2 linked regions of the Homo sapiens genome follow. The protein of the gene in region 1 purifies or fractionates together with the protein of each later gene. This does not show direct contact. Each region holds a gene or a part of one and is shown in the gene's direction. Other genes may lie near its edges.

Region 1 (7,152 bases):
TTCATCTTCATAGATGAGCTATCCATCTATGGAGACATTCTTTGAACTCTGTCAATACAGAGAAATATATAATGCCAAAGTAAATATTTGAAGCAAAGCTTGGGGGTCGAGAGAGAGAGAAGCAGTTAATACTCTGTTCTTCAGAGATGTTTGGAACAGGTAATACTGAACATCACCAAATCCATAAATTGTTATCAGTTCTCATTCAATATTAGTTTTTTGCAAGTTTCTATTTTGCATAAAATATTTCTACATACGAAATTTGACTTTGCAAAGTGAAGATATTCTTGGCATAGTAAATTACACCAAAGAAGTATAGTTTGCTTAATGCTCTGATAAGATTGAATTAAGTAGCTCTTGTGTTTTGTATATTCAGCTTATAAAAGTCATATGGCATCTACTTTATAGGATAATAGGAATTTCCTATTTATACTCTCATTAACTATATGAGCCATTAAGTCAAATTATGCTATTCTCATATTATGACTGGGTAATACTTCCCAAGAGTCTAAGTATCTTATTTTAAATGGTTGCGGAACCATACACACTGTCTTCTGAAAAAAGAATGTATTATTCTCGTGTAACTTTCCCCATCAGGTTGGGTGACAGAATACCCTTTGAGGGAGCAAATGAACCTGATCAAGTTTCATTAAAAGAAGACATTGACATGTTGCAAAATGCATTAGCTGAAAATGACACACCCTATTATGATGTATCCAGGTGAGTTTATTTTTATAAAACTATCCAATGAGTTTTATTTTAGAAAATGTGTTTAAGAACTATAAACGTGCTTATTTTATCTCACCATGAAGCTATTCCGATAGCAAAACACTAGAGGTTTCTATGTGTCATGGCTTCATTCATCCTGATTTACTGCAGATCTTACAGCTGTACATAATTTTCATACTGAAAGGTTGTAACAAGCCAGGATGAACACACCATTCACTTCCATTCTGTTGCACATAATTCCAACATCACAGATTGTACCAATTCTGATAAAAGTACAGCATTTAGCATTCCAATGATGGAAGAGTTGCCAAGGAGTTTTGTCTCTATATAAAGAAAAGATACCTGATAGAGCTGTTCATTCATAGAGCTGTTTGTCTAGAGCATCATTTCAAGTACAGACCAAGTAGCTCTATAGTACTTGGTACAGACAAAGTATAAAAGGTGCTTCATTTGAAAGAGAAAAGGTGGGATGATAGGCCTTAATGCCTTCTCTATCTTAAGAGATTTTGTTTCCAAATATTTTGGAAAAAGAAAAAAAAAGGTGTACTGGGGTTTATGAACTTTCCAAAATCAGAATATTTTCCCATTGTGAATGTCTTTATTCAGTGGGGCAGACACAAAGCACCATGTACAAATAGCAGCTAATTTAAATAGATCATATTTTTACACCAATATTTCTTAGAAAGAAATAGTTATAAAGATTCAACCATGGAGGAATATTGAAATGTGCTCCTAGAAATGCCTGTTTCTTTAATTTTTCAGTGTCTTGGGCTAGAAATATAGGGTATATCTTGATATAAGTGACTAGAAGATCTCTTTTGTTAGGGTGTTAAGAAATCTCCTTTTGAACTTTAGTTTTAATGAGAAGCTTTCATAATAAGCCCATAATTTTTTTGTTATTTAATAAGCCATAATAATATTCTAGAAAGCCATTTACAAAATAATAGCTATTTTTTTCTTCCTTGTTTTAGAAATGCCAGGCATGCTGATGGAGTTTTCACCAGTGACTTCAGTAAACTCTTGGGTCAACTTTCTGCCAAAAAGTACCTTGAGTCTCTTATGGGAAAACGTGTTAGGTAAAGAGAATTTATTATTTTTATAAAATATGTTATCATTATTCAATCTGAATATTGTATTTTCACTCTTAACAAGTTATTTACTTTGTTTGAAATTGAAAACTCGTTGATAATGTTTAATTTAGTTAAATGAAATAACTTGTATTCTTCAATAACATCTATCAAGCCCATGGACTAAGACTTTTTCATAATATCATATTCATTGACTCCAGACACACATTTTTCTCAAGTAGCAATCATTTAGCAATCTGCAATCAAATTGAACAAGACTCAGTAAAACAATCAAAAAGAGATAGTACAGACTGAGGTAAATTTTAAGGTCAAACAGAATATTCTTTTTACTTCCTGCTCAAATTAAATGGAGAATTCCAAATGGCCAACAGTCAAATATTTAGATGACGTTGCTCAGGGTAGCATAGCTTCTAAAGAAGTAATTATGTTTTTTTTAAAAAAAAAAAAAATTTCTCCCAATGGCAGAGCACAACTTCAGCTATTCCCAAATTTTTATTTTTGGATGAATTATTTGCTCAGCTGTACAGAATGTGTCATAAAACAGTCCCAGGCCATGCCAAAATATGGCAGATGATTCCTTGCTTTCCTTCATCCTTAGGTTTAGTTGTATTTTTCTTTTAGTCTTTTTATGATAGAAAATTAGTTGGGTGGGAATTGCTTTTTATGTGGCTCCAAGAAACCTGGAACATGTGTGTATTTATCATTTCTTGTGAAAACTCTTTGATTTCCTTTTCCTCATGTTCCTTAGCAGTAACATCTCAGAAGACCCTGTACCAGTCAAACGTCACTCAGATGCAGTCTTCACTGACAACTATACCCGCCTTAGAAAACAAATGGCTGTAAAGAAATATTTGAACTCAATTCTGAATGGAAAGAGGAGGTAAAGAAAAAGAGAACTTGCTAAAATGAGGAATCATGACTGACTTTCAAAATAGAAGCTGCACATGGAGACCTCTCTATCTCACTTATCTAGCTATACTACGTGAAGCAGTGATTTTCAACCTTGGCTGACATTAGACTACCCCGCAGAACTTTAAAAATACAGATGTCTGGGCCTTCTCCCAAACCAATTGCCAGGAAATCGGTGTCTTCGGTGGTGTGGCCCTAGACATACATTTCTTTTAAGAGTTCCCCAGTTGACTTTACTATGCTGCCAGTGTTAAAAATGATGACTATACAGACATCTAGTCTGAATCTAAGAGCAAGTTTCATCAAAAGTGATGATTTTTAAAACATGTAAAGCATAGTCAATTGCAATTTGGTAACACATGGAACTCACTTCGTGTGCATATTCACTACTGTTATTTAATCAAATTAAACCATTAGGTATTTTGTATATTTAGATTCTGTAAAATCTATATCTCTCTATGGTGTGTAAATATTGGACACAATACATAAACAGTGTAGTGTTCTGTCTTTTTATTCCAATTGTTTTTGTTTAAGTGATGAGTATTAAGGATAATTCTGTTTGGGTGTGATCAGACAAGATGACCTCTTTGCCCACTAGATGATAATTCTGTGAGAATAATTTTAGAAACTCTAAGATTGATGAATAATTCATAGGTACTAACAAACCTCAAAGATAATTGTTTAGCCTCCCCATACACTTTCAGAGCACAGAGAACAGCACATTCATTATGTCATAATAGTTTCTTTAGACCCTTTCTCATCTGAGAGCCTTAATATGTACAATGTTTTTCTGGTCTGCAGCAGTGAGGGAGAATCTCCCGACTTTCCAGAAGAGTTAGAAAAATGATGAAAAAGACCTTTGGAGCAAAGCTGATGACAACTTCCCAGTGGTGGGTATATTCGTGCATTCCTTCTGTATTCTTATGGCTGTCTCTGATTATATAAGTAGCTAAGAGTCACTTAGTAAGAAACATCTTAGGGTTAAATAGTTTCTCATCATGAGACCTCATCCAAGACAGACACTTCTACAACAGTGGACCCCAACCCAGTAAACAGCTTAGAATGATTCATGAAATTTTTTTGATCTTGTAAAAGAGAGCACTCACAATAAGCAAACGTTTTGAGATCTGAATAGTGTTCCTGGCTTACTTGGGGTTATTTCTACCTTTGTATCAAGATAAAAAAACAGAGGAGGCTGACTCACACTGACAAGAAAAATGGGCTTTCCTTTTGAGGATCGACCCATGCTGCTTTTATTAATTGAAGGTTTAGTCTCACAATTGACTGTTAGCTCCTCAATTAAGTATAGGGAAATAGCACCAAATTAGAGCATGGCCCATTACTATGAAAATATCAAGGCATTCTGGGTCTAACTATATTCCTTGAAACATGGCAAACTTCATAGAGCAAAAGTTAAATTTAGCTTGTTTTACCTGTAAGTTTGTTTTACCTATATGACTCTAATAGCATTCTCTGCCAACATTTTTTTTGAGCAGAAAAAACATGGATAGACTTTTTTTCTTTGTGAAGTAATAAGCTTGCTATCAAAATTGATTTTATATAAATGTGGGTTCAAGACATATTTCTTTCCTGAGTTACATTACATTAATATTCACATTCGCTCATAAAAAATCTATAATACTGGGCAAGTGCTTAAAGAAATTTCATGCTGTCACCATATCAAAGGTTAGCAGATTTTAAAGGGCTATGGAGTAAAATATGTTTGGCTTTGTGAGCCATCTATTTTCTGTTAGAGTGACTTAACTCTGCTATGGTAGCACAAAAGCAGCCACAGTTAGATGTAAAACGAATAGGAGTGACTGTGTTCCAATAAAACTTTATTCATAAAACCTGAAGGTGAGCCAGATTCCAATCCCTAACTAGGTTAAGGAGATTAAATTCACCCATGCTCAAACTAAAGGCAATTCATGGCCTTACCTCAGTTCCTGATGGGGTTATCTAAGGTTTTCAACAGTCATCAAGAGTGGACATGGTGTCTGGGAAGATACCTGCTTAATTGACTGCTTTTGTCCACTAATTACCCTTAGACCTCTAAGAGAAAGCAGAGGCAGGAGTGTGGCCCACATCAACTCTTTATCTTTTATAGACATCTCAGAGAAACAAGTCCCTTTGCTCAAAGAAGAAAGTTAATTACATATAGCTTTTCTAAGAGTGTTTATAAGAAGGCTTCTCCATCAAATTAAGAAACACGGTAGGCACTAAAATATAAAGGAGAATTGATTAATCACACTGTGCTTTGTAAATGGTAAGATCACTTATGAGATTCCATCCTCCATTCTTTTCTTTTTTAAATGGGTGGCTTTGGACAAATTCTTTGAAGAGGAAATCATGTGGGTCATCCATTAGTGAAAATTACAAGTGAATCATTAATAATGGTTAGTTAGACGTCTTTTCACATTCCAGTTCCTCTCTGATAATCAGTCCTCTAGAAGCTGCTCTCTTGGTATGTCCCAGGACATGATCCCCTGCCACAGGCTGTTAACAAGGGACAAAGAGAAATAAGTGTTTATCAGATAAGTAAATCAGTGAATGAAACTAAGATGCTAGAAATAAAATATATTTTATGCCTAAAGCAACAATTTTTTCTTTTTCAGAATTCTTGAAGGAAAATGATACGCAACATAATTAAATTTTGAGTTCTACATAAGTAATTCAAGAAAACAACTTCAATATCCAAACCAAATAAAAATATTGTGTTGTGAATGTTGTGATGTATTCTAGCTAATGTAATAACTGTGAAGTTTACATTGTAAATAGTATTTGAGAGTTCTAAATTTTGTCTTTAACTCATAAAAAGCCTGCAATTTCATATGCTGTATATCCTTTCTAACAAAAAAATATATTTAATGATAAGTAAATGCTAGGTTAATTCCAATTATATGAGACGTTTTTGGAAGAGTAGTAATAGAGCAAAATTGATGTGTTTATTTATAGAGTGTACTTAACTATTCAGGAGAGTAGAACAGATAATCAGTGTGTCTAAATTTGAATGTTAAGCAGATGGAATGCTGTGTTAAATAAACCTCAAAATGTCTAAGATAGTAACAATGAAGATAAAAAGACATTCTTCCAAAAAGATTTTCAGAAAATATTATGTGTTTCCATATTTTATAGGCAACCTTTATTTTTAATGGTGTTTTAAAAAATCTCAAATTTGGATTGCTAATCACCAAAGGCTCTCTCCTGATAGTCTTTCAGTTAAGGAGAACGACCCCTGCTTCTGACACTGAAACTTCCCTTTCTGCTTGTGTTAAGTATGTGTAAAATGTGAAGTGAATGAAACACTCAGTTGTTCAATAATAAATATTTTTGCCATAATGACTCAGAATATTGCTTTGGTCATATGAGCTTCCTTCTGTGAAAGTACATTTGGAGACACAACTATTTTTCCAAAATAATTTTAAGAAATCAAAGAGAGAAAATAAAGACCTTGCTTATGATTGCAGATAATTTTTTTGTTTGATTATTTTATATGATTCAGCAGTAACTCATTTTAGCTCTAAAGTTCTAGGCACTAGATAGCTTTTGTGGTATTTGATTGTGTGCAAGTTCTAAAATAATGATGGCTTAAAATAAAAGAGAAATTTCTTTCTCACGTAAGTCAAGAAGTAAGATGTCAGGGTTATTATAATGGTTCTGCTCAGCAAAACCCTCAATAACTTACACCCCTTCCAGCTCATCCCTCATCTCCAATGGTGTGGCACTTTTCCTCATGATCCAAAATTAGAGCTAGCATTCCAGCCATCACATATGCATTCCAGGCAGCAGGCTATAGGAAGAAAAAAGGGAGCAAATATTATATGCCAGTTCTCTTTGAACTGATATCTTATACTAACATCCCCTTTACTAGTACATAGTCTTATGGCCACAGTCATTTGCAAGAGAGGCTGGGAAATGTAGTATGTTTTCTTTTCTTTTTCTGGGTGATCATGTACCCAACTTAAAACTAAGACTCTATTAATATAAAACAAGGAAAGAATAAATGTATGCAGCGATTAAAAATAATTCCAGGCTTGGATCTTAAATTCTCACCCAAAAAGCTTAAAGAAATAATAAAGAGAGCGAGAGTCAGACCCTAACCATTAATGAAGAAGCATTATCCCCATAAGGCAAAGTTTTGCTTGGTTTCATTTTCTACAATTAGGACAAATGGCCACATCAGGAGGAACTAGTCTAGAAGTACCAGTAATTGCAAAGTAGTTTTCACAAGTTGAAGTAAATTGAGCTTCTTGTATCTCTTTTTCTTATCTGATTCTTCAAATTATTAAATATTTATTAAGTGACATTTTTATGAGAAGCACTGCAGTGAAAACAGACAATTTCTAAGTGTTAAGTGTACATAAAAAGCTTGTAAAGATGAAATGGAGCCATAATTTGAGTGTGTAACTAAAGAGTTTTAATTTTA
Region 2 (8,398 bases), on another chromosome or scaffold:
TCCAGCACCATTGTTGAAAAAAGCTACCCTTTCTCCACTGAATTGCCTTTAAATTTTTTAAATGGACAAATAATAATTGTGCATATCTGTGGGATACAATGTGAGGTTTGCGTCTATGTATACATTATAGAAAGATTTAATCAAGATAAATAACGTATCCATCACCTCACCAACTTATCTTTTTTTTGTGGTGAGAATTCTAAAAATCTATTTTAGCAGTTTTGAAATATACACTATTAGCTGCGGTCACCATGCTGTGCAATAGGTCACTAAAATTTATTCTCCAGTCTAACTGAAACTTTGGACCCTTTGATCAACATCCTCACTTTCCCCATGCTTCCTCCTCCTTCCCCTGCCTCTGATAACCATTTTTCTACTTTCTGTTTCTATGAGATTGACTTTTTTAGATTCCACATATAAGTGAGATCATACAGTATTGTCTATGTCTGGCTTATTTCACTTAGCATAATTTCCTCCAATTCTTTCCATGTTGTCATGGATGCAAATGACAGAATTTCTTTTTTAAGGTTGTATAGTATTTCATTGTGTATATGTACTACATTTTCTTTATCCATTCATTCATTGATGGATTCTTAGATTGCTTCCACGTTTTGACTACTATGAATAATGCTGAAATAAACACTGGAGTGCAGATATCTCTTTAACATACTGATTTCAATTCCTTTGAATATATACCCAGAGAGGGGAAAGGAATCTGAGCAGGCATTTCTCAAAAGAAGAGATACAAATCCCCAACAAATATATTAAAAAATGTTGAAAATCTCTAATCATCAGGGGAAATGCAAATTAAAACCACAGTGAAATATCACCTCACAGCTGTTAGAATGGCTATTGTCAAAAGGATGAATAACAGGTATTGACGTGGATGTGGAGACTGTTGGTGGCAATATAAACTGGTGCTCTCACTATGGAAAGAAGTATGGAGGTTCCTCAAAAAGCTGAATTGCTTTTGAATATTTGTTGAAAATAACTTGCCCATATACGTTGTGGGTCTGTTTATGGACTCTATTCTGTTTCATTGATCAATACCACACTGTCTTGAATATTGTAGCTTTACAGTAAAAATTGAAATCAGGTAGTATTATCCCCCTAATGCTCTTTGTAAAAGTTGTTTTGGCTATTTTATTCAATTTCCATATGAACTTTAGAATCAGCTTGTCAATTTCTACAGAAAAAGCCAGCTAGGACTTTGATCGGGGTTGTGCTGTAACTATAAATCAATTAGGAGTGAATTGACATCTTAATGATATCAATTCTTCTGCCCTATGAATACAGTATATTTCTACATTTATTTAAGCCTAAAGTTTTCAGGACAGGTCTTACACATCTTTAATCAGATTTATCTCTAACTTCTAAAGCAAGACCCTTCTGTGTATGCTACCCAAAGCCCTGTGAGGGTTTTTTTTTTTATAATAGATTCCATTCAATAATAGGCTCCATTCAATAATTGATGAGATGAGTGTTTTGAGGAAATGCAAATTTACCAGAGAGACAAAATGTATCCTAAATAGTTTTCAATTTGTTTTTTAGTCAGAATTAATGCAGTTGAAATCTTTTAGTTTCACATTAGGCACACAGCAAGCTTGCAAATGCTTTTAGACCGATTAGGGATCAGCTACCAGCTCTGTGTACTTTGGTGTGTGTGTGTGTGTGTGTGTGTGTGTGTGTATGTATGTTATGTGTGTGCCCACATCTGCCTGTATGGTCTCTTAGTTAATTTTTATAATTGTATAATTAATTGGTGCTGTCAAATCTTTGGGGCATGGTAGGGAGAATTCTAAGATGGTCCTAAGATTCTTGTCTTCTGTTATACATTCTCCACTTAGGTATGGTTGGGACCTGTGAATATGCTGGGCTATCACTCTTGTGATTAGGTTACATTATGTGGCAAAGGTGAAGAGATTTTGCAGATGTAATCAAGGCACACAGTTAATTTTTGAGTTAATCAAAGGGGTGATAATCTTGGGTGGGCCTGACTTAATCTGGTAAAAGACCTTAAAAGAGGCACTGGACCCCTCCTGAGGAGAAAGAAGTTTTTCTGTTGGCCTTGGCTAAGTAGAACAACCATGTTGTCAACTGCTAATGGAGAGGGGCTGCCTCTAGATCCAGTAAATGCTACGGGTCTTAATTCTGTAACTGCAAGGAACTGAATTTGGCCAACAATCTGAATGAGTTTGGAAGAAGATTCTGAGTTGCACATGAGAACACAGCCCAGCCAAAAACTTGATTGCAGCCTTGTGAGACCCTGAGCAGTGCTCCAAGCTAAACCATACCTGGACTCCTGACACGTGGAAACAGATAATTAATGTGTGTGTTTTTAGCAATGAACAATAACTAAGTCAGCGGATACTCTAGCTGGCATTTGAAATGCTTCCCATTATGTTCGTTTGCTAGACCTGCCATAACAAAGTATAACACCATAGACTGGGTAACTTAAACAACAGAAATTTATTTTCTTGTAATTCTGGAAGATCAAGGTGTAGGTAAGTTTGGTTTCTTCTGAAGCCCCATCTTGTCTTGCAAGTGGTTGCCTTCTCACTGCATCCTCACATGGTCCTTCCTCTATGTGCATATATGTCTAAGTCCTAAACTCTTCTTAAAAGGACACCAGTCATATTGGATTCGGGCCCATCTTAGAGACATTACTTTAACTGAATTACCTCTTTAAAGACCTTTTCTCCAAATGCAACATACTCTCCCATGTGTTATCTTATTTGAAACCCAAAACAATGCTGTGGGGCATATCAGACCAGTATTATTTTGCTCCCCACTGGAAATTTGGGAAAACACTCTCAGAGCACTAACTTAATGTCACATAGCACATAAATTGTCTTCTGACTCTGAGTCTAGTGCTCTATCCAGTAGATTAAGTATTCAGATAAAGCATCCGAACCCAAACAGCAATGGACTTCTATTGGATAAGCATATTTGTAATATCTTATTGCCAGTTCTTTTTCTTTTTTCTTTTTTTTTAAACTGAGAATCTGTGCAAGCTACTGGCAGTTCAAATGCAGATCCTGCAGTTGCCCCCATCTCAACACCCTTGCTATGAGGGTTTTCTCTTTGTGTAGATAAGGGCTGCTTGGCCCACACTGGATTATCCCATTTTTACTGGCATTTCTGTGGGAGAAACTTATTATAAAGTAACCCCACTTGAACCTTTTTATGGCAGGACAAAGCAGTGACTCGAGTGTACACCAGCTCAGTTTGTACTTATTTTTTTTTTAACCTGTGTGCCAGGTTTTTGATACATGCTAAAAGTGATTGTTTGGAATATATCACCTCAGTGAGATTGTAAACTTCTGTACAAGGTGCTTTCTACCCAATAAGCATTTAGTGTGTAAGGTAGGTATACAATAATTATTGAATAAGCATAGTGGAGAAGCCAGTGGAAGCATTCCTGTTAACAAAGGGGAATTGGGTTCAATACACTTGCACGTAAAAGGTAATAATGCAAATTCTATGTATATTTGGAGTTCTTTGATTATTTGGTAAAGTCCAACAATGTGGTATTATCTTTAGTTCTAGCAAGTTTTTGAGTAGCTGATTATTCTCAAATTTACCTAAAACCTACTACTAGAATTTCAGTGTATGTAAGTTGAAATACAAAGTCAGCAATGTTGAAGATCTCAGATCCCAGAGGGAGAAATCCTAGAAAACATAAAGATTCCACACTCACCGCATCACTTCCTTAAGAAGAAGAAGAAGAAAAAAACAGCCAAAGAAAAAAAATCACAATAGTGATTAAACTGGTTGCTAAGAGCAAACTCCCTTTATTTTCCCAAGGAGGAGTCTGGAATTATAAGTAGAAAGGGCAAAGGAATAGGTGTAAGAAGGTGGCCCCAGGCTGTAACCGTCAAGAAGGCAAAGAATGAATAGAAGACAAGCAAGGGGAAAAACAGGCTTGACTGGGGTTTTTTTTGGGGGCTAGGCTGATAGAGCAGAATCAAGATTCTGACTTAGAAGAGCAGTCCCACCAGAGTTTGGAAGCAGTTTGCATAGTGGTTAAGAGCCTGGGTACCAGAATCACACCGCTTGGGATCCTGAGTCCCGCTCTGCCACTTACTATTTATGTAACCTCTGGCAACTTGGTTAACCTATACACCTCAGTTTTGTCACTTGTAAAATGGAGACAATAGTGTGTAACTTGTAGAGTAGCTGTGAATTAGGTAAGTTGATGCTTCAGTGCTTGGTTCATAGCAGACGCTCAGTAAAATGTTAAACTGTTATTTGTAGTTTTTATCCTTCCTCTTTCTTAATGTTGTGTACTGCAGCAGGGAGGGGGAGGGATGAAGCGCTTATCCCACTAGAAGAGTGATATTTGTGTGAGAGCCTGGGTCAGGCTTATTTTGAGACGTGGGCCCCACTGAGGTGAGGTGGCACCGCTTCCAGGGCACACCCTTTGCTCGGGCCCCGCCGTGACTATGAGGAGGCCGAGGCCACGGCTGGCAGAATGCACGGGTGGACCTCCTTGGAGTGGCTAACCCGGGGCGGCTGCACTGTTGTCCCTGGATACTTGACACTTTTCACTTTTTCTGCCTCCCGGCACTAGAATCCATGTGGGCTCACACCAGAGCCTCCCGGTTTCCGAGGCGTGAGGGCCACTTAGCGGTCATTCAGCTTCAGGGTCCGGCCCTGTCACGCTTTCGCTACAGCCTGGGAGTTCCGTTCGGACCCCACACACCGTCCTAGCCCCGGCTCCCCGCCACCCTGCCTCCCGCGCAGGCGCCGCCGGGGCCACCCCCGCCGCCATGTTTCCCCCGCCCGCGCGCTCCCCCCCCCACTGCCCCCTCCCTCCCCAACTGGGTTCCCGCCCCCCTCCCTCAGCAGCCCCCCCACACCCTGGTGAGGTCAGGCGGAGGCTCTGCCGCTGCGGCCGCAGTAGCTCAGCTCCTATTCCTGGGAAGCCTGGAACGGGGACTTTTGAAAATAACTGCAGCGGCATTCGGGTTAGGGTCCGTGCTCTCCGCCTGCGCCAGGACAGGGTGAAGTGGTCGGGGCGAGCAGAGGGTGCGAAGGTGCGGGTGCTGGTGCCTCGCAGCAGGAGGGAGCCCCGGCTGCGCCGCGCGACTCCCTCTTTGGCCCTCGGAGCGCAGCACCCGGCGGACAAGCGGCGGGACGCCAGGACGCGGCGAGCAAGGTGAGGCAGGGTCCTGAAGTCACAGGGGCTCCAGCAGCCGCTTCCCTGCCTTCGGACCCGGCGCTGCGCGGTGCGCGGCGAGGAGTTGCGATCTGTACCAGGGGCAGAGGAGCAGAGGAGCAGGGAAACAGCTTCATTTTGCCCGCCGCCCCCTCTTTTTCTCCCGCGTGCTGGTGCGCGCCCTCATCCTTACACCTTCGCATCCCTTTCTGCCGGTCCCTCTGGCTCCGTCGGACGCCTGGGTTCTTCTAGGACCCCAGAACCCGGCTTTCCTGTGCTTCTTTGTCATCTCTCCAAGATCTTCTCCTCTGGGCCTCGCTGTTGCTGCCCTGACGGTCTGGGGTCCCGCTGCCCGCCCCGGCCCTACTGTCTCTTGCCCTCTAACAGTTTCTGCTTTGTGCCTCCTAATCCATCTCTCCTTCAGAATCTTCTAACTTAGGAGGCTCCTCTGCTGGCTCCCAAGTCAGGAGCACACTCCTCTTCTTCCTCGAAGCTTTTAACTTAGCTCTGAATGTCTTCAGCTCTGAATATTTTGACTTTTTTGTTTGTTTGTTTGTTTAATTACAGTTGACTAATGATTTTCTTGGAGGCTTATAGTCTAGGCTACAGTTTACTGAAAGTGATGAGATCATTCCTTCACTAAATAGCCTTAGTAAATATCAACTAGGGAACTTTAAAGTTTCTTTCTAGGTTTCATTAACTTAGTCCAAGAACAATAGCCACTTAAAATGTATGTATATATGTTGGTACGCAATCTTCGTACATGGTCCTAAATCTGATTCTTCCCTGGCTGCTGAGCAGGCCTGAGAGAGAGGATTGGTGGGAATTGTGATGCCTGGCTCCATTTCTCTAATTGTAAACTAGGATGTTAATCGTTTTAATGTAGTCAGAGGACTTTAGTGGTTTGGGATAAAGTCGCTCAAGTTAGCATAGGCTGGTAACTAAGCACATTGAATGGAGACTAAGAGACGCTGGGATTTAAAACTGTCTCTGGAGGGCACCTGCTTTCTTTTTTTTGAAGCCACAGTTTCTTAACAGTAGATTTCATGTTTGTATAAACCCTCTAAAAGCAGCATATTTTAAAACCACGTAGTTACAAAAAAGACTACTCACTCTTAGCGATATCGCTTTCTCCCCATGTAGTTGTGGTGTTAGCTCCCATACTGAGGTTCATTTGCTCACTTTCATACTGCAATTAGTGTGTGAAGAAAGCTGAATGGAGAAGCACAAAGTGGAGGCAAATACCAGTGAACAAGCACATGCTGACATACGCAGCTGTGTTTTTGGAAATAGACTGTATCTAGTGTTCAAATTTAAAAACTGAGAAAAATGAAATAATTCAGCATTTATGACATCATTTTACATCTAAAAATATTAGCTCCCTTAACTGCAAGTTCTTATTAATATCCTCATACTTAACGGTAAAAGAGTTGTTTGCCTGATGTATGACCAAGTGTTGCCATTGACACAGTGTGCACTAATTGGCAGCAATCTCAGAAGAAACCAGGTTGTGAATGAAGATAATGGCTAAATTTCACTGTCCTGGTAGCACGTCTTATGGCAGTGAGATGAGAGTAGTTTCTGCTGCAACATCAAATGATGTATTTAAAAAACAGATAAATAAGAGCTTCAATTATTAAAAAGCCCAAGGTTTTCAATCTGCCATTTTTATAAGCACACTTCAAAAAGTGTAGTGTGATTATATAAGGCTCAGTTGATGTTCTGAAGAAAGTAGTTTTCACAAGAAAAGTAAGGCCTATTGCTTATCAATTTAGTTAGATAACTTGCAGATGATTTGTAGTTTCCCAATTGATTTGGTAAATTCCTGAGTTTACTTGAGGTTTATTAAAAAATGGAATGTAGTAGGGAAAGGGTACTTATTCTAATAGGCCCACTTTCTAAGTCTGTAATTTTCTTAGCAAACTATTCTCAAAATACATAAAAACTTACAACTTTTTCAAGGAAAAGAGTTTATACTATTTTCTTACTTTTTTCTTTTCATGCTTATTATTGATACAAAATCTAAGCTAAGATTGCTGCTAATGTGATTGCATAGTAAGACTATTTATATTTGCCAGGAAAAGAATAAAGGTGGATGAGTTAGCCATAAGCATTTTGCTCTGAATCTTCAATATGACTCAATATGTGTTTGATAGTCCATCTGGTACACCTAGAGGTTAGCAGACTGGATATTTCTGATATTACTAAATGTAACTGCACTTACTTATTGGATTATCTTCTTTCTCATTTTATGTACATTTCAAATTATGCTTCTTCATGTAATTTGACTTGCAGTAGTGAAATGAGACTGACCAATTTTCAAATTGTTTGATTTTTATTGATGTTTGATAAACCACTAAAACCTCTTGAAAATATTTTTTTCTTAAATCCACTGATTGAAACCGATGTATTTTTATTGCTATGAAATAATACAACAAATTTCCAGGAATTATTTCAGAAAATGTGGAAAGACTGTAGAGAAATGAATAGCCCTAGAGAAAATATCTCAAAATTATAAAAATGGCTTTCTCAAGTTACTGATATTCATAACAATCAGGTTTTTATGTATCATTCATTCATTTACTAATTCATTTTACAAAATCTACTGGGTACTTGTGTGCCAAGGCCCTGTGTTAGGCACAATGATAAACCTTATAAGGCATGATCTTTGCTCTTGTGGAGTATCACAGTGCTTATATTCTACCAGAGAATACAGACAATAAACGAGCAAACAAATGAAGAAGATCCTTATAGACTGTAGTAAGAGCAATGAAAATAAGTAGGGGAATATGATACAGATAGCTAGGAAGGGCCTACTTTAGTGTGGGAAGTCAGAAAAGGCCTTTCAGAGAAGATGATTGAGCAGAGACCTGAAAGAGAAGAGAGAATAGGCCTACCTTGTCAGGATCTGGGAGAACATTCCCGAGATAACATTCTTGCAGAGAGAAGAGTAAGAGCCAAGGCCTTGAGGGGGGAAAAAGAGACTTGGCGTTTTTGAAGAGCAGAAAGCAAGCCAGCATGGCGGATTAAAGAAGATGTTACAGAGCCTAGAAGCAGCTCAATAACCGATAAATAGGACTTGGAGGTCCTGAGAAAGAATTTGGGTTTGATTCTCAGAACAATAGGAAGCCACTGAAGAGTCTTTCCTGGGGAAGGTCATTGGCTTAAAAAAATTATCCAGGGAAATTTAAAAAAAAATGTTTTGCAGAGGATAAATAGAATGTCTACTCATTCAGT

The links. The genes of interacting proteins can lie anywhere in the genome.
Region 2: the proteins of VIP (region 1) and KLHL13 purify together in Homo sapiens (co-immunoprecipitation; 2 studies listed by BioGRID and IntAct, with this or other methods). This does not show direct contact.

The regions. Positions count from the first base shown.
Region 1 is NC_000006.12:152,753,569-152,760,720, forward strand, and holds the end of VIP (VIP peptides isoform 1 preproprotein), read left to right. Parts: intron 1-597; coding exon 598-720; intron 721-1,307; exon of another isoform or gene 1,308-1,700; coding exon 1,701-1,805; exon of another isoform or gene 1,806-2,565; coding exon 2,566-2,697; exon of another isoform or gene 2,698-3,527; coding exon 3,528-3,573; 3' UTR 3,574-3,616; exon of another isoform or gene 3,617-5,222; intron 5,223-5,341; 3' UTR 5,342-6,192; downstream 6,193-7,152. UniProt on the Homo sapiens protein: PHM-27 and PHV-42 are two bioactive forms from proteolysis of the same precursor protein, that cause vasodilation. PHM-27 is a potent agonist of the calcitonin receptor CALCR, with similar efficacy as calcitonin.
Region 2 is NC_000023.11:118,113,271-118,121,668, reverse strand, and holds the start of KLHL13 (kelch-like protein 13), read left to right. Parts: upstream 1-4,858; 5' UTR 4,859-5,161; intron 5,162-8,398. UniProt on the Homo sapiens protein: Substrate-specific adapter of a BCR (BTB-CUL3-RBX1) E3 ubiquitin-protein ligase complex required for mitotic progression and cytokinesis.